Linked DNA regions of Homo sapiens. The protein of the gene in region 1 purifies or fractionates together with the protein of each later gene. This does not show direct contact. Each region holds a gene or a part of one and is shown in the gene's direction. Other genes may lie near its edges. The genes, in order: FOXR2, EPC2, SIM2, MBTD1, BRD8, TADA1 and TXNRD2.

Region 1 (3,971 bases):
ATTAAGTTATAAGATTTTATGTTATAACACCAAAATAGAGAAGATTGGTATAGTTAGTAAAAGCATGTGTTCTGCAGTCAGGTTGCCTATGTTTGAAAGTCAGCTCTGGCCTTTACTAGCTCTGTGACTTAGGCTTTTTTGTGCCTTATGTTTTTTACTCTGTAAAGGAAGAATAATAAGAGTACCTACTTCATAGGATTATTTTGAAGATTTGAGTTAGAGTGCTTACAGCATTCTGTAATAATTAACAGTTGGTACAACTGTTGTGTTGTTTTTTGTATTTATGCTGTAGAAAGACAACTCAGGCCACTTGTATGAAAGATTAGAGTAGAAGAGAACCAGAGTATGGAAACAATATGGAGATTAAAGTGCCTCTCCAATAGCTCCCATTGACATTTGCTGGATATGTTTGCAACATAGTCCTATGTAGTGATTTTAATGATATCGCATACTTTACACATGGATTTTGTGCAAACTGAATTAAAGGAAACCTTGCCATTTTATTTTTCTTACAAATGTCCTGGGTGTGAACTTACTGGAAATAGAACCTCTGGGGCTTTCAGGACCTTGCATACTGTGGCTAAATTTTGGTCCTACTGTTCAGAGTATAGTTCAGAACTCATTTCCTAAGAAGGTGACCTGGAGAGAGGAAAGCCAGCTGTTTCCCAGAAAAGGATTGAAAACGGCAGCAAGGTTAGATTCTAGTATCAGTATGAGAATAATAGAGGCCATGTTCTGATAGTTACCATCTTACTATAAAACTCAGGTTGCACATATTACTGCCTGTTGTATATCGTATGTTGAGTATGATCAAGAGGCAATGCGTATAGTGAAAATAAAAGATCTGGGCTGTGGATCTAGCTCTCCTACTTACTCATGTCTGTATATCTCAGTTGCCATGTCTGTGACATGAGGATAATAATACCATGTTATCTTGCAGGGCTGTGATGAAAATCAGTTGAGATCATCTATGTGAAAGCACTTAACCAAAATCCAAAGGCACTCGATGAATGAAATGATTTTTAAAACCATTAAGGAAGACTCAGAAATATAATGTGATCTATACATATGTTTGTCCCTTCCTTAAATGAACTCATCAAGGGTTTAAATATGTGCCAGATGATCACCTATTATGCAAGTCACCATAGTTTGCACATAATTCAGTTTATAATTCCTCTTGAAGTGACTTTCTGCTTCCAATCAAAGCTCAAGAATTCCACCTAAAAATGTTTTTCTGCTCAAAAGCTCTTTTTTATTACTTCCATGTTTTGAGCCTTGTTCCAGAAAGCTGAGGTTTCTCCAGGTCTGACCACTAATCAGTGAGACATTGGTGCCTCTTTCTTCAGTGCTTCTAGCAGGCCTACTGATAAGCTCCCTAGATGAGATACACTGCATAAAAAAATGATGCCCAAAGGACAGCTTTAAGTGCCTGCTAGATATCTGTTCTTTCAGAAGTCTCTCTCCACCTATCTCTCCAGTAAAGATGGACTTAAAACTAAAAGACTGTGAATTTTGGTATAGTCTCCATGGCCAGGTCCCAGGGCTGCTGGACTGGGACATGAGGAATGAGTTATTTCTGCCTTGTACCACAGACCAGTGCTCTTTAGCTGAGCAAATCCTTGCCAAATACAGAGTCGGAGTAATGAAGCCCCCAGAAATGCCTCAGAAGAGGAGACCCAGTCCTGATGGAGATGGTCCTCCCTGTGAACCCAATCTGTGGATGTGGGTGGACCCCAATATCCTGTGCCCCCTTGGCAGCCAGGAGGCCCCAAAGCCCAGTGGAAAAGAGGATCTGACAAACATTTCTCCTTTCCCTCAGCCCCCACAAAAAGACGAAGGGTCTAACTGCTCAGAGGACAAAGTGGTAGAGTCTCTGCCATCTTCCTCCAGTGAGCAGTCTCCTTTACAGAAGCAGGGTATCCATTCCCCCAGTGACTTTGAGCTCACAGAAGAGGAGGCTGAGGAACCAGACGACAACTCCCTCCAGTCCCCTGAAATGAAATGTTACCAGAGCCAGAAACTATGGCAAATCAACAACCAAGAGAAGTCCTGGCAAAGGCCCCCTCTCAATTGTAGCCACCTTATTGCCCTAGCATTAAGAAACAACCCCCACTGTGGCCTCAGTGTGCAGGAGATCTACAATTTCACCCGACAGCATTTCCCCTTTTTCTGGACAGCTCCGGATGGCTGGAAGAGCACCATTCATTACAACCTCTGCTTCCTGGACAGCTTTGAGAAGGTGCCAGACAGCCTTAAGGATGAAGATAATGCAAGACCTCGCTCTTGCCTTTGGAAGCTCACTAAGGAGGGGCACCGCCGCTTTTGGGAGGAGACTCGTGTCTTAGCCTTTGCTCAAAGGGAGAGAATCCAAGAGTGCATGAGTCAGCCAGAGTTGTTGACCTCTCTCTTTGATCTTTGAAATGCCATTGCTCCCTTTTGGAACACTGCCTTCCTTACTGTGCCTACTTATCCCCTGACATTCATTAATCTCTAAACTTACCCAGCCTGGTTGGTGCCAAGTCTGTCTTTAGCTACTGTTACAATAATGGTGTTAAGTAAAGTTAGAGGTGGGTACAGGGGAGACAGAACTTAAATCCAGGTGGAGAGTCATGGAAAGTCGCACGAGGAGAGTGGCTGTTGTTCCAAATTTTGAGCAAAGGAAAAGAAATCCTAGAAACAATGGCATAGAAACTAAGGAAAGAAGGGTGTGTTTTGTGAAAGAAAGGAATTTTGTTTATAGAGAGTATTTTCACACATGAAAGTGAACAGTGGAATATAAAGCATAAAAGGCAGGATGGAGCCGAGCCATGGAGAACCTCGAGTGCCATGTGAAGAGAATTTGACTTGTGATGAAGAATCAAGTTTCCCCTTCTACCATTCATCAGCTACATCTCCTTTTTAAGTAACCCATTTTATCCTTCAGAACCTCACTTTTCTATTTCTGGCCCTGGACTTCTAAGCCTTGTTTCTTTGTCATCCAATTCCAATATTGACAAATAATTCTAAACAGCTACTTTTAGTTTGTATGTTTAACGTCCTGTGAAATATTCCTGTATTAACCCCAAGCCTTTTGATGATAAAGCTTTATTTTCTATTATTTTTAGTTCTCAAGATTTTATTGAGGATATGCTAATGTGTCAAGGTCCATCTTAGATGCTGAGGATAAAAAGCTGAGGGATACTAGTGGGAGACATATTTATAATGTAAATATGATGAAACAGATGTGAGAAATTGACATGGAAATGGGGAGACATTCTTCCTGGGAAAGACATGAAAGGGCATTGGAAAAAATACATTTTGAGCTAGTTTTGAAGAATAAATGGCAAACTGGAGTAGAGGCATTACAGAGACAACAATGTGAACAAAGTGGATGGAGTGTTTGGGGGAATGGCATGAAGTTCAGTGTGACTTAACTACATGAGGACCGTGAGTGACTAAGAGAAAACTATTAGGTGTTTGGACTTCATCTTGTGGGTTTTTAGGAGCCAAGAGACATCAGTGGAGTTTTGCTAAAAAACAAAAAAAGAAACAAGCCAGCAGCAACAACAAACACTACAGCATTTGTTTTTCTAATTTCAAAATTATCTTTAACATCTTTTCTATGCAAATAAACTTTTGTTTATCAGATTTAAGCATAGCTTTTTGCTTCAATGATATTAACATATATCCAGGAGAAAATAGATTTTTAGGTATAAATTTAGTTGCAAAACCTTCATAATGGGGGTACAAAAACGCCTGTAAGCTACAAAAGCAATTAATTCAATATAATTGTAACTATTTTCAAAGTTCACATTTTTATAATGATGTATTATACCTCATACAAAATTGTATATTTAGGTTAAATCACAAAACAACATATGCAAACAGTATTTTTTGAAAAAAATTGTAAATGCTACTTCTGTATCATAAGGCAAAGACCAAGTTAACAGAATACCTTGGAATTAATAAAATATTCTGCATATAAGTAGTCA
Region 2 (3,500 bases), on another chromosome or scaffold:
CCATGTTAGATGCTTTCTGTCAATCATTTCCTATTCTTCCTGCTAATAGAAACTTTAGGAGGATAGCACTCTGATGTTGCTGACCATATCATTCCCCTGTTTTCGTTCGGACATGCAGACATCTTTTGCTTCTGTCTTCCCCTTCATTTTATCCCTGTTACATCTTCAGCACTAAAAACCGTTTAAAACATAGAAGCACTCAGTAAATATTTGGTGAATGAAGGAGTAAAAATAGGGGTGGAGATTAGGTTGGAAAAAAGGTAGAATTAGACTAAATTATAGGCAGTTTTGAATGTTAGGCCTAGGAGTTTGTAGGGTGGTATAGATGAAAGACCACTGAAGTATGATTCTGGAGTTTTTGTTTCTAGTTCTGGTTGTCATGGATTAACCCATTTATGCCTAAGTGGGTTAAATGGCCATATAATTTGGAAGTTGCTTAGCTTTTCTGAGCCTCAGGTTGTTCATCACTACTATCTCAGCTAACATTTGAGTGTGTGTTGTTGAGTGTTTGAGCATGTGCCAGGCACTTTGTTAAACTTAATAGATGGTTTAGAGTTGATTTTAAGAGTAGGACATATAGGTGTTACTACTTCTTTTTCAGAGGAAGAAACTGAAACTTTAGAAATTAAGTAACTCGCCTAAGATCATCCGTCTAAAAAAGAACATGCTAGAGCCAGAATTTGCACTCAGGCTGATTGACTCTGGGGCTCTTGCTTCACCGTTGTACTGCTTCATCTGTAAAATGAATGGGTTGAGAACTAGAAGATATCTAAGGTCCTTTATAGCTTTACTGTTCTATCATTTATTTTCCCATTTAAAGTTCAAAATTCCAGATTCTTGAGATAGAGAGCGTTATTGGTCTGGCTTGCATCAGGTATCTACCTCTGAGTCTGCCATTCAAAGAGAAGGGGAAGTTAGTATACCTATGTTGAGAAGTGTTACCCTCTCAGCTGGAGAGCTGCCCTGAGAGATCTGCTACCGATGGTAATATAGCATGATCAAAAGTTAGGAAGTTAAAGTGTTAAATCATTTTAATCCATGATTTGTCCCAAGGTGAATTTGTATACTTAGTGTGTTTTTACAAACCATAAATTTGTAAGATGTTTTAATGAGCTTAGAATAATTTGTATGTGTTATGTTTTAAATGAAATTTGAATCAAAGACTGTAAAAGAAGTCTCCAGTGTCCTTTTAAAAAAAAGCAAACTCTTCACACTTATTAATTTTCAAAGTTGTAAGGGATGAGTTTTGTTTGACCGCGTAGAAATTATTTAACCTTCCTGGCCCTTAGTTTTCTCATTTGTGAAATAGAATTGGACTGAGTGACCTTTAAAGTACCTTTGACTCTAAAAATTACTTGAACCTCTGAAACCGCATGTCTATCTACTGGCATATTGTCCAGGATTATAATTAGATGAAAAGAACTAACAAATGTGACATTAAATATTGGGAAGAAATTAATGCTTAAGGTTTAACTCTTTAATACTGCTGAGATCCTGTCAATTTGGCTTATCGTTCTTTTATGAGGATCGATTATATTCGTCCTCTATCTAATATTAATTTTTCCTAGAGCCTAGTAGAGCAATCCATTCTGTGTATGTTTTGGTTATGATCATCTTGCTTTCATGAAATTTTCTTCACTTTACTAGGCTTACTCATTGCTGTAAGTATTCTGAAGTTCAGTAGTACTTTTAGTCTTTACCACTTGAGTTTATTTTAATTTTCTAGTATCATTTTTCTCACTTGAGTGTGTGTGTAATGGTGTGTGTGTGAATTTTATATATGTATGAAAAAGAGCATGTGCACGAGAGAGAGTAGACACTTATTTCCCCAACAAGACTAAATGTCTTGAGGGAAGGTATCATGTGTGTTTTATTCAGTACCCAAGACAGGCAGGATAGCAATCCAGGTACTTCTGTCACTTTCTGTCTTAAGTGATAAAAAGTTTGTAATACAGGCACTTAGCATGTTGCTGGTCACTTGGATTGAGTTTCGTTGTATTGGTAAACAATGCAGCTCTGCATCTTCATTTAGTTTTAAGTAGAGTTGAAGTAGAAAAACAGTAATGGGTGTGTAGAGACAGCATGAGGAGGAGAGGCTGATAGGAATAAGCCCTGAAGGAGACCAATGCAGATGGCAGAAGGTCCATCATGATTATTTGATTTTAACTTAAAGTTGATCATCGATTATTTGCCTTGTCTATACTATTTAAATGGGACAGAGCTTTAAATTTACATATTCTATCATGCAGAACCGCTTCTTACAGGGTTAACACTGTGGAGGAAGATGCCAGTCACTTCCAGTTTCTCCTCAGCAGTTTCATTGTATCTGTCTTCTTTTAGGTTTTTTGTTTTACTGTAAGCAGCTGTTGCTATAAAGTCAGAGGAATGCAGACTGGAGAGTCAGCCTATCTGCTACCTCTCTTAACTCCTATCTTTGCTTCCCTGCTTGCTTGCTTTTTTTTTTTTAAATGGGCTAAGGACGTGTCTCATGTCTTGGTTGGGGAGTCAACAAGCAGCATTCAGTTTTGCTGCTAATTTGGTGAAGTTGTTGGAACTTTGAAATTGTGATTTAGGTTCCAATCCTGGCCTCTGCCACTTGCCTTATGGGTGAGGTAAATTACTTAACCTCATTGAGCCCCATTTCCTCATCTGTTTAATAAGTATCTGAAAAGTTAGTTTTAAAGATTACTTTTTTTTTTGTTTTTTTTTTTTTTGGAGACAGGGTCTTGCTCTGTCACCCAGGCTGGAGTGCAATGGCGCGATCTTGGCTCACTGCAACCTCTGCCTCCCTGGTTCAAGTGATTCTCCTGCCTCAGCTTCCCAAGTAGCTTGGGACTATAGGCACACGCCACCACGCCCAGCTAATCTGTGTATTTTTAGTAGAGATGGGGTTTCACCATCTTGGCCAGAATGGTCTTGATCTCTTGACCTCGTGATCTGCCTGCTTCTGCCTCCCAAAGTGCTGGGATTACAGGTGTGAGCCACCATGCCCGGCCAAGATTACATTTTTTTGTAAAAACTTAAGTCTGTGTCTTATAGGCAACACTCATTTTTTTGGTAACAATTTTCACTTATACAGGATAACAAATATGAAGGTTGATGGAAGAGTAAAATGTAGAGTATTCCCATACATTATTCTGTGATAGAGTTTCACATTTTTTCTCATGCCAATTAAACATTTTTACAGCTTGAGGCCAGGAGTTTTGAGACCAGCTTGGGCAACATAGTATGGCTTCGTGTCTACAAAAAATAAAAACATCAGCTGGGTGGAGTGGCATGTACCTGTAGTCTCAGCTACTTAGGAGGCTGAAACTGGAGGATTCCTTGAGCCCGGGAATTCAAGGCTGCAGTGAACTGTGATAGCGCCACTGCACGCCAGCCTGGATGACAGAGTGAGACTGAGGCCCTGTCTCTTAGAAACAAACAAACAAAAAGAGAGAGCGCTTTCAAACATTACAAGTTAATATGTGTGTTTTCCTCCTTCCTTCTGTTTTCTGGCA
Region 3 (3,151 bases), on another chromosome or scaffold:
CCAGCTACTCAGGAGGCTGAGACAGGGAAATCGCTTGAACCCGGGAGGTGGAGGTTGCAGTGAGCTGAGACAGTGCCACTGCACTCCAGCCTGGGTGACAGAGCAAGACTCCATCACTTGTTCTGTGCCAAGTGAACTTTGGTAATGTGGTCATTAGCAGATAGACCAGTTGAACGTCACGGCCTCCACATTATGACAAAAAAAAAAAAAAAAAGAAAGAAGGAAAAGAAAGGAAGGGAGGGAGGGAGGGAAGGAAAGACGGAAGGAAGGAAGGAAGGGAAGGAAGGAAGAAAAGAAAAAAGAAATAAAGAAAGAAAGAAAAACAAAGAAAGAAAGAGAAAGAAGGAAAAAGAGAAAGAAAGAAAGAAAGAAAGAGTCCATGTGTGCCTGATGTCTTGTTAGCTTGGGGTGGGGGATCTCTTTCCACCCTGGGAGCAGGTCACTGGGGTATCGCTCGCTGTGTGCCTGTCCCCAGTGGGACCTTGCAGTGGTGGCGAGGGTAGGGGCAGCCCTTGGATGGGGTTGGGCCCCGTCGGGACGGTTCTTGCAGGGCCGGAAGGCAGCTTCCTGCCGGCCCCTCGCTGGCCCTTCATCCATCTTCTTTGCCATGCAGCAATACAGCTCGTTCCAAATGGACAAACTGGAATGCGGCCAGCTCGGAAACTGGAGAGCCAGTCCCCCTGCAAGCGCTGCTGCTCCTCCAGAACTGCAGCCCCACTCAGAAAGCAGTGACCTTCTGTACACGCCATCCTACAGCCTGCCCTTCTCCTACCATTACGGACACTTCCCTCTGGACTCTCACGTCTTCAGCAGCAAAAAGCCAATGTTGCCGGCCAAGTTCGGGCAGCCCCAAGGATCCCCTTGTGAGGTGGCACGCTTTTTCCTGAGCACACTGCCAGCCAGCGGTGAATGCCAGTGGCATTATGCCAACCCCCTAGTGCCTAGCAGCTCGTCTCCAGCTAAAAATCCTCCAGAGCCACCGGCGAACACTGCTAGGCACAGCCTGGTGCCAAGCTACGAAGGTGGGTCAGGTCTGCTCGTGGGGAAGGTGGGAGGACTGCGCACGGCCGGGAGCCGAAGCAGCCATGGCGGTGGGTGGCAGATGGAGACAGAACCCTCACGCTTTGGGCAAACTTGCCCTCTTTCTGCTTCTAAGTAGGGCTTGCTGTGCTTTCTTGCTCTCAATGCAGGTGCTCCTCGAGAGTGAGAAATGGCAGTCTGCCTGCCTCGGGGACACTAGTGACAGTATAAAGGGCAAAGGAAAACCGAGTATCTGGCCTTCACGTAAATCCTGGCCACATTCACCAACCAAAGGGGGACAGTGATTTTCAAAACCAGCTCCCATGTGCTGAGAACACCCCAGCTGCATTTCTTTTGCAAGATTCCTTTCCACTCCAACCAGAAGTGAATATTTGAGACAAACGGCCTATTGGCTATTTTCCCATGCCAGTTTTGGAAGTGGGGAAAACTATGGTGGAAATTTGTGGGCTTGGGGACAGAAATGCCACTCACCAACCCAGGGCAAAGAACACAAACCCTCCAGGCCTCAGTTTCTTCACCTGTAAAATGGGGTGAAGCTGTGATGTGCCTACTCCCAAGGACACGACACACAGTAGGGACCTGCCCTGTACATGCTAGTTCAACAGAAAGGAATGGCCTTTCACCTTCTCCTGGTGGCAGGCAAGCAGATGTCCTCTGCGGAGATACCGCCAGCTCCCCAGGACGCAGACTGACTCCTGTTTGCTCGCTGGACCAACCCCAGGCAGAAGGTGGAAGGTGGGAACAGAGGTTTAGCTGCAGGACATGTATTCCCATTGCACCGAGACCTAACTGCCGCTCAGAGTGTAGACCGAGATGGTGCAGATGCCTGCAGTGCCACTAAAATGTGGGTGAAGGTGACATCAGGATTATGTGCCCCAGGCCGGGCTCAGTGGCTCACACCTGTAATCCCAGCACTTTGGGAGGCCAAGGTGGGCGGATCACCTGAGGTCAGGAGTTTGCGACAAGCCTGCCAACAAGCTGAAACCCCATCTCCACTAAAAATACAAAAATTAGTTGGGCATGGTGGTGAGCACCTGTAATCCCAGCTACTCTGGAGGCTGAGATAGGAGGATCACTTGAACCCGGGAGGTGGAGGTTGCAGTGAGCTAAGATCACATCACTGCACTCCAGCCTGGGTAACAGAGTGAGACTGTCTCAAAAAAAAAAAAGAAAAAGAAAAAGGATGATGTGCCTCAGAAAAGCAGCACACCAGCCCCTGCTTAAGAAGACAGCTCTTGGAAGTTCCTCCACGCCTCTCTCGAGGCAGGTAGGGCTCTGCTCCTTCTGGGCCTCATCCTGCTTTTTCTGCAAATCCTAGGAATCTCTTGCTCTGTATTGTGACTTGAGGCTGAGATAACATTTCTTCCCAAATCTGAGAAGAGAGATAGATTACGGGAGAATGCCGCCTTTCTGGAAATCACTAGGACATGTTTTTTCAGAAGTAGCTAACTTAGAAAAGACCACATTGGTGACCAGGGCCAGGACCCCTGCCTTTTGACCTGGCCTGTCCCAGGAGCCACGGATCCCTTAGATTTGCATCTGCCATACCCGTGAACATCTTGGGCCCCTCATATAACCAAGGAAGGGATCTCCAGAACATCCAAGCAAAGGAAGACAAAGCAAAGGGTTTTGATAACAGCTGAAAGTATTACCCACTTGAGATTGACTTGAATTTGTGTGTCGGAAGCTGGCTAATGCTGTCACATGGTATTTGACTTTTACCACTATTTTAAAAGTGAAAGAGGTTAACAATCTCCTTATCACACACTTGATAAAAAGTGGACCAAAGGTGCTAATTTGAGGCAATTTGCGATCAGCTTCCTAGTCTTTTTGGTATTAAAGGAAGACAAATTTTGCCATATAGTGTTTAAAAACAAACAAACAAACAAAGACAAAAAAAACCCACAAGCCAGGGAGCTACTTAATGTCAGGCATCGGACTGAGTAGATGGGAGTGGTTATTTTTCATTATGACACGGCGAAACCGATCGGGGTGGTTACCACCCCTCTCCACTAAGGGACGGGCAGAAGAAATCAGAGCAGACGGGGGCCCTCCAACACCAGGGCCCCTGGTGGCCTCTAGACCTCTGCCGTCCAATCAGGTAGCCACC
Region 4 (3,500 bases), on another chromosome or scaffold:
CATTGTAGTAAACAGAAAAAGAGAGCCACTTTTGCGTTAGACTAAGTAGGCACACCAGTGTTTCTAGAGAGGGGAGGGAAATCTGTGTAACATGGAGGAATTATTGCACTCAGCAGTATAAATCATATAGGCCAGGTGCAGTGGCTCACGCCAATAATCCCAGCACTTTGGGAGACTCAGGTAGGAGGATTGCTTGAGACCAGGAGTTTGAGAACAACCCGGGCAACATAGGGAGACCCTGTCTCTACTAAAAACAACAAAAAATTAGCCTGTCACAGTGGCATGTGCCTGTAGTCCCAGCTACTAGAGAGGCTAAGGCAGGAGGATCACTTGAGCCCTGGAGGTTGAGGCTGCAGTAAGCCTTTGAGGGCACTACTGCACTCCAGCCTGGGCGACAGAGCAAGACCCTGTCTCAAAAAAAATAAAGTTGATCATATAACCTATGCTCTTAAGATTTTTTGTACTGTTACTTTTTGTCTGCATTTTAATATTATGCTAATTTTAAATGAACTGCTAGTTAAACCAGTTGTGTTTTTTAGGTTACACAAAACTTCCTTTTAAATGGTTTGACTACCTCAGGGAAACTGGCTCCATTGCAGCACCAGTAAAACTATTTAATAAGGTAAATTTAAATGGCAGCATAATTATGTGAGGACTTATTAATGCCCCACAAATACAATTTATGTTCATAAAAATGTCTTTGCCTTGTATTAGAATTTCTTAGTGGAGATATAATATAAACAAATATAGCAATGAAACAATATAAATATTTTCTTTACCTAGGAATCAAAACTTGTTTCCAAACTATGTTTCGTTTTTAATCTGAAGGAAATAGAAATGAAGATTTTTCCTAACTAGTTTTTAAATACTTCACCTTCGTACTATGTTTAAATAGTTAAAGAATTATTTGGAATTTATGGTTTATAATTATGTTATTTAGCTAGTCGCTTCTGTTTTTTGCTTTCTTAGTGATAGTAGGGTTGTGCATTCTTTCTTCTTCATACCAATATTAATGTTTTCTTCTCTGTGTCAGGATGTTCCAAATCACGGATTTCGTGTAGGAATGAAATTAGAAGCAGTAGATCTCATGGAGCCACGTTTAATATGTGTAGCCACAGTAACTCGAATTATTCATCGTCTCTTGAGGATACATTTTGATGGATGGGAAGAAGAGTATGATCAGTGGGTAGACTGTGAGTCACCTGACCTCTATCCTGTAGGGTGGTGTCAGTTAACTGGATATCAACTACAGCCTCCAGCATCACAGTGTAAGTTGGTATACAGAAAAGGTGTCCTTTTGTAAAAATCAGCAATTCTCCAGAGGACTATCTCACATAAGTCATCTTATGAGCTCACAGGACAAGAATATACCTATGTCTGATTGGTTGCCAGGTAAGACATTAAGACTCAACAACAATATCACAGAATCAGACCATGTGTCCCATGGCAATGTGAATCCAATAGTCAATTACATAATGACTATAGAAACACAACAGTCACCAAATTAAACTAGACTTACTATTTTAGTGAGTTAAAAATTACATACTAAAAGTTTATTGGTAGGTAATAAATGCTTTTGAGTAAATAGTGGAAAATGTCTCATGTTGAGGCTATGGTTTTGTAGGAACAAGTACCCTTATTTTCAGAGCATCATGTACTTAAGTATAATGGTCTTGGTAAAGATAGTTCATATAAGTTGTATCTAGACAACTGTATCGTCTAAATTGTAAACAATTATCTAGTACCAATTTTCCCTTTTTATTTTTCAGCATCAAGAGAAAACCAATCAGCTTCATCAAAACAGAAGAAAAAGGCTAAGTCCCAGCAATACAAAGGACATAAGAAAAGTGGGTCACCACGTGGTGTTCACATACATTTTCTAATTGTTAACTAATTGGAGTCACAGTATTCTTGGACAGAAAATGATATATCTTGTGAGAACTGATGATTGTGCATTATGTATTATGCTTAAAGGTGCAGTATGCCATAAAAGGCAAACCCTTGCAATAATGAGAAACACTGATATTTTACTAACAGGAGAAATTATTACCACAGTATTTAAAGTATACGTGGTAAAGAATAGAGTCTGTGAATGATTCTTGAAATAATATGTAAAACCTACTGAAAGTTAATCCTTTTTAAAAACTTTATTTAAAAAGAAAAATTAGCAGCCAGGTGCAGTGGCTCACGCCTGTAATCCCAGCACTTTAGGAGGCCGAGGCTGGCAGATCACAAGGTCAGGAGATCGAGACCATCCTGGCTAACACGGTGAAACCCTGTCTCCACCAAAAATACAAAAAATCTGCCGGGCGTGGTGGCACACGCCTGAAGTCCCAGCTACTCAGGAGGCTGAGGCAAGAGAATCACTTGAACCCAGGAGGCAGAGGTTGCAGTGAGCCAAGATCACGCCACTACATTCCAGCTGGGCAACACAGCAAGACTCTGTCTCAAAAAAAAAAAAAAAAATTAGCAGATGCTTGATGCTTACAGTAGATGTGAAGCCTAATAAACCCATTTTTCCTAGAAAGCAAAACTTTCTAGAGTGATACTGGTAAGAAATCCAAGTTGATGGCAAACAAGCTTTACCAAATTTTTCTAGAAATGCTTTCTATACTAAAAAATTAGCCGGGTGTGGTGGTGCACGCCTGTAATCCCAGCTACTTGGGAGGCTGAGGCAGGAGAATTGCTTGAACCCAGGAGGCGGAGGTTGAGGTGAGCCGAGATCGTGCCATTGCACTCTAGCCTGGGCAACAAGAGCAAAACTCCATCTCGAAAAAAAAAAAAAAAAAGAAATTCTTTCTATACTATATTTTACCTTACAGTGAATTGTTGGCATAAGCCAAAGTAATATAAAATATATTGATAACTATGTTTGATTTTTTTTATCTTATTTCCCCACCATAGAAAGCCATAGCTTTCTCTCTTCATAAAACTTGTCATAGAATGTTTCATTCTTTTTTGAGACAAGGCCTTACTTTGTTGCTCAGGCTGGAATGGAGTGCAGTGGCACAATCTCCGCTCACTACAGCCTTAACCTTCCCTGGCTCAAGCAGTCCTCCCACCCCAGCCTCCTGAGTAGCTTGGACCACAGGCATGTGTTGCCACACACCCAGCTAAGTTTTGTATTTTTTTGTAGAGACAGAGTCTTGCCACGTTGCCCAGGCTGGTCTCAAACTTTTGGGCTCAAGCACTCTGCCCACCTCAGCCTCCCAAAGTGCTGGGATTACAGGCATGAGCCACCACACATGGCCATATTTCATTTCATTCTTAGATAAGGTTATATATATATATATATATATTTTTTTTTTTTTTTTTTTTTTTTTTTTTTGAGACAGAGTCTCAGTCTGTCGCCCAGACTGGAATGCAGTGGTATGATCTTGGCTCACTGCAGCCTCGACTTCTCGGGTACAAGCAATTCTCCCACCTCAGCCCCTGGAGTAGCTGGGACTACAGGAGTATACCACCATGCCCAACTCGTTTTTATATTTTTATAGAAATGG
Region 5 (3,500 bases), on another chromosome or scaffold:
GAAAAACAAAGTTGTTTTTATCTGTGACTCCTGGCCTCAAGTGATTCTCCTGCCTCAGCCTTTCAAAGTGCTGAGATTATAGGCATGAGCCACTACGTCCAGCAAAGTTATTTTTGTTATGGTAATAAATAAATTGTTCTTTTTCCAGCCTGTGTCAGATCCATCTGTTGAGAGAATATAGTATGAACTGTTTTTTTTTTCTTCAGTATATCCCAGATCCACCCAGTTGTCTGTGGAAAGGTAAAACTAATAATTATTCTAGTGTTTTTTTGTTTAAGATATACAGCTGAACCATGCATATATTTATATATGAATATATATATATATATATTTTTTGAAGAGCAGATTTCTTTTTTTTCTCATAGAGACAGGGTCTTGCTTTGTTGCCCAAGCTGGGTCTTGAACTCCTGGCTTCAAGCAATCCCACCTCAGCCTCCCAAAGTACTGGGATTATAAGCCTGAGCCACTGTGCCCAGCCTAGATTTCAATTTTTGGTACACAAATAGGATACAGTTTAAAATGTAGATTGGTGAGGAATGCCTTCATTTGCTTTTCTTTAACTCCTTAAGTATGAGCAATAGAGTGCAGAGATGACATACTGTGACTGTACAAACAGCAGGAAATCTGCAATCTGAGACTTTTTTTTTTTTTTTTTTTTTTTGAGACGGAGTTTCGCTCGGTCGCCCAGGCTGCAGTGCAGTGGCGTGATCTCGGCTCACTGCAAGCTCTGCCTCCTAGGTTCACACCATTCTCCTGCCTCAGCCTCCCAAGTAGCTGGGACTACAGGCACCCGCCACCACGCCCAGCTAATTTTTTGTGTATTTTTAGTAGAAACGGGGTTTCACCGTGTTAGCCAGGATGGTCTCAATCTCCTGACCTTGTGATCCGCCTGCCTCGGCCTCCCAAAGTGCTGGGATTACAGGCGTGAGCCACCACACCGGGCCCAATCTGAGACATCTTATCTCATGACAGTTCATAGTCTTGGATGGTAAATTCCACATTCTTACCTTACAATTTAGATTAAATATGAAATCTTTATTAGAAAGCAGTAGATATCCAGCCTGGGCAACGTAGTGGGACCTTGTCTCTACAACAAATACAGAAATTAGCTGCAGGGCGTGGTGGCATGTGCCTGGAGTCCCAGCTACTTGGGAGGCTGAGGCAGGAGGATCGCTTGAGCCCAGCAGGTTGAGGCTGCAGTAAGCCACGATCACACTACTGCACTCCAGCCTGGGCAACAGAGCAAGACCCTGTCTCAAAAAAAAAAAAAATTGGCTGGGCATGGTGGTTCATGCCTGTAATCCCAGCACTTTGGGAGGCTGAGGCGGGTGGATCACTTAAGGCCAGGAGTTTGAGACCAGCCTGGCCAACATGGCAAAACCCCGTCTCTATGGAAAATACAAAAATTAGTTGGGTGTGGTGGTATGCAACTTTAGTCCCAGCTACTTGGGAGGCTGAGGCAGGAGAATCGCTGGAACCCGGGAGGCAGAGGTTGCAGTGAGCTGAGATCATGCCACTGCACTCCAGCCTGGGCAACAGAGCAAGACTCTGTCTCAGAAAAATAAAATTAAAAAATTAAAAGAGAAAACAATAGATATTAATAACTAAGTCTGCTTGGCCAGATAAGGGGAGATAAAAAGCTTCAGATATTAATTAGGAGCATGTCTTAAGAAAACCTCATTACCCACCTGGGGGAGATAGAATATTATTTGTGAAGTTACTGTCTCTTTTCTTCATGTTTTATCCTCATAGGACTGATCTAAGCCAGGATGACCCTGTTCAGGATCATTTGCTATTTAAGAAGACTCTCCTGCCAGTCTGGAAGATGATTGCCAGTCACAGGTAGGTCTCCAAAGTGGTAATAGGATTATGTTCAGAGCTGAAGCAGTAATACATATTGGGGTTTAAGCATAAAAGGAGATATGTTCATCCCTCAAATGAGCCATAGTTGAAAGGTAGATTCTGTATCTAAGCCCGATTTATCCCAAAGTACCCACAGCTGCTTTCACAAGTCTGTACAAGAAATAGTTGCTGTGCCATTTGAGTTGCCTCTAGAAATTGGTTCCTACTACATGATAAAATTTATATTTAAAATGTATATTCTTCTTTTCAATCTGGTGGATTCTCTTTTTTCACAGAGACAGGGCCTTGGGAACTTTGAACAAATTTCTGAGCCCTAAATCAGTATATTGTAATAATAGTGAAATATTTTATAGTTTTGTGTTTTTTTTAACTCTCTGGCAAGAGGGAACAAATAGATTTTTTCCTAATGGTGCTGACAGTCTGCATTCCCCTAAAGGAAGTCTACTAAGAACTGAGCTACTCTTCTCCTTCAGAGTGCCTTGCCAGGGTTTCTTTATCCTCTCTGGGTTTGTCCCTTAACAGGTTCAGCAGTCCATTTCTGAAGCCTGTGTCAGAAAGGCAGGCCCCAGGGTACAAGGATGTGGTGAAAAGGTCAGTGAAAAAGGGGTCAAGAAAGGTTGGTTGCTTTTATATCTGCCTTTTCATTTTTTATTTCCCATCTGTTAGATTATTTTTATAACTTACAAACTCAAGATATGTTTCATAGCCAAACAAGTTTATAAAGTTATGATGAGCTCAGTATCATATCTTCATTTAAGAAGGAATGCAGGGAACAAAAGGATGATATAGGCTTTTTATTTTGTACTATTGACTTTTAAGTAATATGATCCATTCTATATATATATATATTTTTTTTTTTTTTTTTTTTTGACAGGGTCTCACTCTGTTGCCCAGGCTGGAGTGCAGTGGTACAGTCTTGGCTCACTGCAACATCCTCTTCCCAGGCTCAGCTATTCTCCAGCCTCAGCCTCCCAAGTAGCTAAGACTACAAGCATGAGCCATCACGTCCGGCTAATATTTGTATTTTTTGTAGAAACGGAGCTTTGCCATGTTGCCCAGGCTGGTCTTGAACTCCTGAGCTCAAGCAATCCACCTGCCTAGGCCTTCCAAAGGCTGGGATTATAGGTGTGAGCCTTGGTGTCCAGCCTGATCATTAATTATAATCTTAAATTAGCCTTTGGTTGTTTTTGACACTATTCTTTTGGAGCAAAACTTTAAAAGGAACCCTGTATTTATTCAGTTAGTTATAGGTATAGTAAGGCACAGATGTCGATCCAAATGGAAGTTATGAACATTGGTTGATTGTAGTATTGTGTCCGGAATTGGTTCCTTCCGGTGGGTTCTTGGTCTCGCTGACTTCAGGAATGAAGCTGCAGACTCTCGTGGTGTTACAGTTCTTAAAGATGGTGTGTCCAGAGTTTGTTCCTTCGGATGTTCAGATGTGTCCGGAGTTTCTTCCTCCCGGTGGGTTTGTGGTCTCGCTGAGTTCAGGAGTGAAGCTGCAGACCTTCACAGCGAGTGTTACAGCTCTTAAAGGTGGCGCCTCTGGAGTTGTTCGTTCCTCCCAGTGGGTTGGTGGTCTCGCTGGCTTCAGGAGTGAAGCTGCAGACCTTGGCGGTGAGTGTTACAGCTCTTAA
Region 6 (3,500 bases), on another chromosome or scaffold:
TGGTAAAATAATTATCTGCAGAGTTATTTTACTATTCTGTAGTTTTCCTAGATTTGTAGTAAAGTCTTTTCCCTTTTTAAAAAGTAAAATTTTGGTTTTGTGGTGTATAAGGTTATCTTAATAATGTGGATACTTTAAGTATAAAGCATGGCAGAATAGGGGATATCCAAAATCTTGAGAAGCTAGACCAAAGTTGTGGTTTCCTTATGTTGAAAATGTTTTGAATTTGATTGTCACTATCTTTCCTTTTTCAGTCCATTCTCACAATGATTTCCTCCTGGCCATTCTCACGCGTTGTCAGATTTTGGTTTCTACACCAGGTAAGGGAGTGGAAATACTTCCAGTGTGTGTAAGTCAGCAAAGCACTAGACTTTAGCTTTCTCTAATAGACACAGCTAGTGTTTGTAAAGCAGATGTTTTTGAACTACTCAGAAGAAAAGTTTTATTAGGTAGATACAAATTCTTTTACAGAATCTTTTTTTTTTTTTAAAGCAGAAACTCTTTATTTTTAAGAAAAAGGTATGATTTCTCATTTTCAGTTCTTGGCATACATTTTAATTCTTTCCAGTGGAACCCAAACCTCCTGAACCCCTTTCAGTGTCATCCAAAGCTTGAATTTCTGTTTCTGGAGAAAAAGTCTGTTCACAAATGAGCTATGCAATTTGATCACCATTTTTGACACCAAACTTTTCTTTGCCAAAATTGAATTGTACAACACCAACACTTCCTCTATAATCTTCATCTTATGATGCCAGCTCCTACATCAGTAAAGTGTTTTTCAGCCAAGCCAGATGTGGCACTACTCTTTTCTAACACCCAGAAGGAAGGACTGTCTGAATGTTTGTTTTCACAAGTGCTTTCTCCCTAGGTGGTATTGTGTAATCCTAGGCATGTCCAAGTCCTAGCCCCCGTGGACCCCTTGGTCCGGGCGTGTTATGCTGGGAGAGCTGGGCAAGGCTGCTCTGTGTGCCACCCTCCCCCGCAGGCCAGTTTGCTCAATGGGGGAAATAGTGGTGTCCCTCAGAATAGGGCTTGAGAGAGCCAGAAGGCAAGCAAGGAGATAGCCCGGGAACAAGAGGGCGCAGGGTGAGCACCACAGCAGGGACTGCCCAAATCTACGGAGCCTTGTAAAGCAGGTTATGTCCCTGTACTTATATTACCTTTTGATATTGAGTCCCCACTCAGCTACATTTTAGATTACTTAAGTAAATGAGAAGTGAGGAAGAGGGTGGGAGATCAGGATGAAGAAGGTAAGGGAGATGAAGAGAGGGCAGTTGGTGTTAGGTGTCCTGTACCTAAGGGATACCTAACTTGAAAGGTGTCCGTAGTGGGGAGGTGGGGGAACCCAGCATATGTTGGGAACCTGGACTTCCACTATGTTCTTAGGTAAGATAGCACCTGAAAGGTCAAGCTTCAGCACCTGTGTTTCACAGATTATTGGTAGATAACAAGAGGTAGGGGATAGTAGCATGTTGAGGGGGTAGGTGGAAACGAAACCTGTCACTTTAACCTGAAGAGAAGATTAAGCTGTAAGTCACCTCTCTCAACCATCTTATTTTAATCAGTCAAAAACAAGTAATTAAATACATTGAAAACTTTCCTCATGATAAAAGTCATACTGGACTTTTTAAAAAAAATTAGGCCAAATGATTTATTCAGTAGTTTTTATATTTCTAAATTGCAATTTATATCTATTCATAAGACTACAAAAGTTACCATTACAATTGTGCTTACCAACTCCTGTTGTAGATTAAATTGAAATTTTTTTAAGGGCTTAGGGTGATTCTGATGATCATATATCGAAAGCTCATGTTTTATCTATAAATGGCTGGTATTTTTTAATCCTCTCTCTCTGTTTACTTCTACTGTATGATAAAGAACTCAAGCCAGGGCGTGGTGGCTCACGCCTGTATTCCCAGCACTTTGGGAGGCTGAGGCGGGCGGGTCACTTGAGGTCAGGAGTTCGAGACCAGCCCGGCCAACATGGTGAAACCCCTACTCTACTAATAATACAAAAAAGAAAATTAGCCGGGCGTGGTGGCGCACATCTGTAGTCCCAGCTACTCAGGAGGCTGAGGCATGAGAATCGCTTGAACCTGGGAGGTAGAGGTTACATTGTGCCACGGCACTTCAGCCTGGGCGACAGAGTGAAACTGTGTTTAAAAAAAAAAAAAAAAAATTCACATAAGATCTCCTAACACCTCGTTCTTTGACCCTCAAAGAAGTCGTTGTTAATGTGTAGTAAACTGTGAGCACCTGCTTGTGGGGTTGTTTTAGAGAGCAGTGACTGCCTCCCTCCCCTCACCACACTCATCACCGCACATTCTTACACTGTGTCAGATTTTTGATGTGCTATTTAATTTATATACAAGTAGACTTTAGCCATTCCTCTTTTATGTCCAAAGTTAAATCATAATCTATTTTGTTACATAAAATTTAATTTGATCAGAAAAGCCAATATTGTGAATCTTACTTTTTAGGGAAGCATATTGTAAATTGCCACATATGCCAAAGATAAATGGAGTGATCAGAAGTAAAAACCCTGGTTGATAAGAGTCAAGAGACTTAGGTTCAAGTGTAGGTTTTGCCACTAGCTTACATAATATAGTTACTTGGGCTTTCAAATTTATAAAATAAGTACAGCAATATCTACCCCGTAGGATTATGAAAAAACAGATGAAAGAACTTATAAAAAAGTGATTTTAAAAATAAAAAATGCCAGCCAGACACAGTGGCTCATGTCTGTAATCCCAGCGCTTTGGGAGGCCAAGGTGGGTGGATCACCTGAAGTCAGGAGTTCAAGACCAGCCTGGCCAACATGGTGAAACCCCGTCACTACTAAAAGTACAAAAATTAGCCAGGCATGGTGGTAGGCACCTGTAATCCTGGGTACTAGGGAGGCTGAGGCAGGAGAATTGCTTGAACCTGGGAGGCGAAGGTTGCAGTGAGCCGAGATTGCGCCACTGCACTCCAGCCTGGGTGACAGACTAATACCCTGTCTCAAAAAAAAAAAATAAAAATAAAAAAAATTGCCAAACAAATGTTGAAGTGGTATTCGTAAGTACAGGTGGCTGATTTTAATTAGATAAAAACCTTTGATATTCTGAATGGTTGTTAATAGTTATTTTAAAATAAATGAAGAAGCATTTGGATTTTGAGAATGTATTCTTCCATTGAACACCCCAAATTTCTCAAAATGAAATTAATATTTGTTAGCAACAAAGAGAAGATTTCTATTACAAGTAAAATATAGTTGTTTGTACCTCACAATTTTGGATGGGTTGTTTTCTAGTTTTCTAAGCTAGTCAGGAAAGATGATATTAATAATAATATTTGTTGAGTATAGCATACTAGACACTTTATATGCATTATCTTTAATCCTCACAACAATTCTGCATGGTAGGTGTTAGCCTGTTTTTATAGATAAGGAAACAAAATTAAGAGAAGAGAAAACAAAACAAAAGAAAAACTTGCCTTAGGCCTTATCCAGCTAGTAATTG
Region 7 (3,500 bases), on another chromosome or scaffold:
CTTAGCCTCCCGAGCAGCTGGGACCACAGGCGCATGCCACCACACCCAGCTAATTTTTGTATTTTTTGTAGAGACAGGGTTTTGCTATATTGCCCAGGCTGGTCTCAAACTCCTGGGCTCAAGCAATCTGCCTGCTGCGGCCTCCCAAAGTGTTGAGATTATAGGCGTGAGCCACTGTGCCTTGTGGACATTAGCTTTTTTTTTTTTTTTTTGAGACAGAGTCTCGCTCTGTCACCCAGTCTGGAGTACAGTGGCACAATCTCGGCTCACTGCAAGCTCCGCTTCCTGGGTTCACACCGTTCTCCCGCCTCAGCCTCCCGAGTAACTGGGACTATAGGCACCTGCCACCACGCCCAACTAATTTTGTTTTTGTATTTTTTAGTAGAGACAGGGTTTCACCGTGTTAGCCAGGATGTTCTCGATCTCCTGCCCTCGTGATCTGCCCACCTTGGCCTCCCAAAGTGCTGGGATTACAGGCATGAGCCGCTGCACCCAGCCAAGCAAAATGGATTTTAAAAATGAACTCTTACAAAACTTTGTTCTAATCTTGCTTTCTAATAGCCACGAATCAAACACTTTCCTTGGCATTTTAGGGTTCATGAGATTTGTGTGTGCCTTGGGAGGCAGTCAAGTCCAAGGCCTGAAGTTTGCTGATGCAGTGCCCAAGCCCGGGCAAATGGAAGCTTGAAATTAGCCCTAGCTAATGTTTTTTTTTTTTTTTCTTTCTTTCTTTTTTGAGACAGAGTCTTGCTCTGTCGCCCAGGCTGGAGTACAGTGGTGTGATCTCTGCTCACTGCAGCCTCTGCCTCTTGGGCTCAAACGATTCTCTTGCCTCAGCCTCCCGGGTAGCTGGGGCTACAGGCTTGCACCACCACACCTGGCCAATTTTTTAATTTTTATTTTTAGTGGAGACACGTTTTACCATGTTGGCCAGGCTGGTCTTGAACTCCTGACCACAAGTGATACACCTTCCTCAGCCTCCCAAAGTGCTGGGATAACAGGTGTGAGCCACCATGCCCGGTCCTGGCTAATGGTTTCTGAGTTGGCCCCAGAACCTGTGGCCCTGGGTGGCCACACTGCTGGCTGGGAGGGCAACTGGGTGGCTCTGCAGCGGGAAGTGTGGTTTGGAGTCAGGTCTCGGCTCCTGCTCTGGGGCTGGTCCACCCTGGGGCTGCTGCGTCACTTCTCCTGAGCTTTGGTGTCCTGGTCCTGAGAGTGAGGCAGCGAATGCCCACCTAGGGGGCTCTGGCTGGGATGGGAAGGGGCAAGGGAGAGCCTCTGAGTCAGGAGCCATTCCCGGTGAGTGGCTACCTGGGGGATGCCACCCAGGGATGCTTGGGTGGGCACTGGGCTTATGGTGAACGTGAACATGCAGGGGCAGGTGGGGCTGATGCCAGCACTGTGAGGGGTGGATGGTACAAAGGCTGCGGGCCCTGAGAGGTCTGAGGGCTCCTGCCTGTGGGCAGCGCAGCTGGGTGGGCAGTGCCAGAAAGAGACTGGAAGACTCAATGCAGAGCCAGCAGGCAGCGCAGCTCAGCAGGCCAGAGCGCAGAGGCAGATCAGGGGTCCCTAGCATTGCGCAGCTCAGCCACTGTGTGGGCAGCCGCAGGCCCAGGCCCTGCCCACACTCTTCTGGACCTCACAAGCCCTGAGGAGTGCCTGTTCTTGAGTCCTGAGCCAGCTCCCCATGCTCACCTGCTGCTCTCCTTATCCTTCCAGCCGCCCAGCTGGGAAGGAAGGTGGCCGTGGTGGACTACGTGGAACCTTCTCCCCAAGGTAGGCAGCACCCTATGGGAGCCGGGTGTCCTGGGGAAGGAGGTGGGAGGTGGGCCCAGTTCCTGTACAGAGGGCAGCTGACACCAAAGTCCTTCAGCCCTGCTGTCCATGGTTTCTGGACAGTGTCCTGTTTCACTCATCATTACTTTAAAGTTCTTGACCATTATCGAAAACAACTCTGGCCAGGTGCAGTTGCTCACGCCTGTACTCACAGCACTTTGGGAAGCCAAGGCAGGCCTTGATCACTTGAGCCCAGGAGTTCGAGGCTATAGTGAGCTATGATTGCACTACTGCACTCCAGCCTGGGTAACAAGAGCAAAACTCCATCTCAAATAAATAAATTAATAAATATTAAAAAGTAAAAACAACTGTTTTTATTTTCGAGTACAGTTATAGAGAGCAGATTCGTGTGGCATGTCAGCTGGTCTGTGTTAGAGTTACAAAGCAACTTTAAGGAATTCCAAACACTCTAGAAGAACAGGGAAGCCTCCAGCAGTCACCTGAACATAAATTCAAATGTGCTCTTCCCACGTCCCAGGCACCCGGTGGGGCCTCGGCGGCACCTGCGTCAACGTGGGCTGCATCCCCAAGAAGCTGATGCACCAGGCGGCACTGCTGGGAGGCCTGATCCAAGATGCCCCCAACTATGGCTGGGAGGTGGCCCAGCCCGTGCCGCATGACTGGTAAGGATCTGGCGCCGTGGCATTCCAGTGCTTTTCTTCTACTCTTGGGTGGAAGAGGAAGAGGAGGCTTATCCTCGATGAGCCCTCATGGGGAGTGGGCCGTAGGATGGGTTTCTCAGCCAGGGGCGACTCTGCGCTGTCTGCCTCAGACATTTGGGAATGTCTGGAGACAGTTTTGGTTGTCACTGGGGAAGGGTTTGCTCCCCTTTGCGGGGAGCCCAGGGATGCTACAGCCATGCACAGCACAGCCCCACCAAGAACAGTGCATCTCCAAGGCCAGGAGTGCGGGTGGGAGGCCGCTTCAGCTGAGCTCTTCTGGGAAGGGGACCACGTGGCCCAGCCACACCCACATTGGCTCAGATAGGCCTCTGCCTGCAGTGGGTAGCCTTTGGGGCACAGAGCAGCTGCATCTGGAGAGCCGTGGGTCAGAGCCCCTGTTTTCTGTGAGTCCAAAGGTCTGCAGCCCTGAGCCTGGGACAGGCGGTTGCACGTAGGGATGGATGTCACGTTTTGCCACCTTTAAAAGCACTCTTGTTTTTTGATATTTCTATGAATGTACCATTTGAATCTAATAGTCCATCGTGAGGCCCTGCAGCTAACACCTGTGTTGTGGATTTTACATTTTGTTTCGTATCTTCACAGGAGGAAGATGGCAGAAGCTGTTCAAAATCACGTGAAATCCTTGAACTGGGGCCACCGTGTCCAGCTTCAGGACAGGTACTGAAGCTCTCTCCGGGAATGGGCCGCCCTCTGGGCCTTCTCTTGGGCGTTCTGTGCCTGGACACACACTTACTTACTGTGCAGAGCATGCTCTGGCAGGCTCTGGGGGTTCATGTCCTGCTCATGGGTGGGGATGAGGACAAGGAGCAGATGGGAGTGACTGTAGGGGAAGGGGAGACTGCCCTTTGCTGCTGAGCAGAGCCTGGAGGTGCTGCCAAGGAATGAGTGAGGCCACATTGGCAGAATGGCCAGAGCCCAGGGCTGCACAGGGAGGAGGCGCTTGGGGCTGGAAGGCCTCAGGCCAGAGAGCGTGGACATAGC

What was found.
Region 2: the proteins of FOXR2 (region 1) and EPC2 purify together in Homo sapiens (affinity purification with mass spectrometry; 3 studies listed by BioGRID and IntAct, with this or other methods). This does not show direct contact.
Region 3: the proteins of FOXR2 (region 1) and SIM2 purify together in Homo sapiens (affinity purification with mass spectrometry; 3 studies listed by BioGRID and IntAct, with this or other methods). This does not show direct contact.
Region 4: the proteins of FOXR2 (region 1) and MBTD1 purify together in Homo sapiens (affinity purification with mass spectrometry; 3 studies listed by BioGRID and IntAct, with this or other methods). This does not show direct contact.
Region 5: the proteins of FOXR2 (region 1) and BRD8 purify together in Homo sapiens (affinity purification with mass spectrometry; 3 studies listed by BioGRID and IntAct, with this or other methods). This does not show direct contact.
Region 6: the proteins of FOXR2 (region 1) and TADA1 purify together in Homo sapiens (affinity purification with mass spectrometry; 3 studies listed by BioGRID and IntAct, with this or other methods). This does not show direct contact.
Region 7: the proteins of FOXR2 (region 1) and TXNRD2 purify together in Homo sapiens (affinity purification with mass spectrometry; 3 studies listed by BioGRID and IntAct, with this or other methods). This does not show direct contact.

What each region holds. Positions count from the first base shown.
Region 1 is NC_000023.11:55,622,229-55,626,199, forward strand, and holds FOXR2 (forkhead box protein R2), read left to right. Parts: upstream 1-1,171; 5' UTR 1,172-1,483; coding exon 1,484-2,419; 3' UTR 2,420-3,964; downstream 3,965-3,971.
Region 2 is NC_000002.12:148,651,251-148,654,750, forward strand, and holds part of EPC2 (enhancer of polycomb homolog 2), read left to right. Parts: intron 1-3,500. UniProt on the Homo sapiens protein: May play a role in transcription or DNA repair.
Region 3 is NC_000021.9:36,744,115-36,747,265, forward strand, and holds part of SIM2 (single-minded homolog 2 long isoform), read left to right. Parts: intron 1-613; coding exon 614-1,022; coding exon of another isoform or gene 1,023-1,159; exon of another isoform or gene 1,160-2,210; intron 2,211-3,151. UniProt on the Homo sapiens protein: Transcription factor that may be a master gene of CNS development in cooperation with Arnt. It may have pleiotropic effects in the tissues expressed during development.
Region 4 is NC_000017.11:51,190,550-51,194,049, reverse strand, and holds part of MBTD1 (MBT domain-containing protein 1), read left to right. Parts: intron 1-539; coding exon 540-622; intron 623-1,033; coding exon 1,034-1,268; intron 1,269-1,769; coding exon 1,770-1,847; intron 1,848-3,500. UniProt on the Homo sapiens protein: Chromatin reader component of the NuA4 histone acetyltransferase complex, a multiprotein complex involved in transcriptional activation of select genes principally by acetylation of nucleosomal histones H4 and H2A.
Region 5 is NC_000005.10:138,144,131-138,147,630, reverse strand, and holds part of BRD8 (bromodomain-containing protein 8), read left to right. Parts: intron 1-1,752; coding exon 1,753-1,842; intron 1,843-2,385; coding exon 2,386-2,454; intron 2,455-3,500. UniProt on the Homo sapiens protein: May act as a coactivator during transcriptional activation by hormone-activated nuclear receptors (NR). Isoform 2 stimulates transcriptional activation by AR/DHTR, ESR1/NR3A1, RXRA/NR2B1 and THRB/ERBA2.
Region 6 is NC_000001.11:166,866,265-166,869,764, reverse strand, and holds part of TADA1 (transcriptional adapter 1), read left to right. Parts: coding exon 1-2; intron 3-254; coding exon 255-320; intron 321-3,500. UniProt on the Homo sapiens protein: Probably involved in transcriptional regulation.
Region 7 is NC_000022.11:19,917,819-19,921,318, reverse strand, and holds part of TXNRD2 (thioredoxin reductase 2, mitochondrial isoform 5 precursor), read left to right. Parts: intron 1-1,719; coding exon 1,720-1,776; intron 1,777-2,314; coding exon 2,315-2,459; intron 2,460-3,101; coding exon 3,102-3,176; intron 3,177-3,500. UniProt on the Homo sapiens protein: Involved in the control of reactive oxygen species levels and the regulation of mitochondrial redox homeostasis. Maintains thioredoxin in a reduced state. May play a role in redox-regulated cell signaling.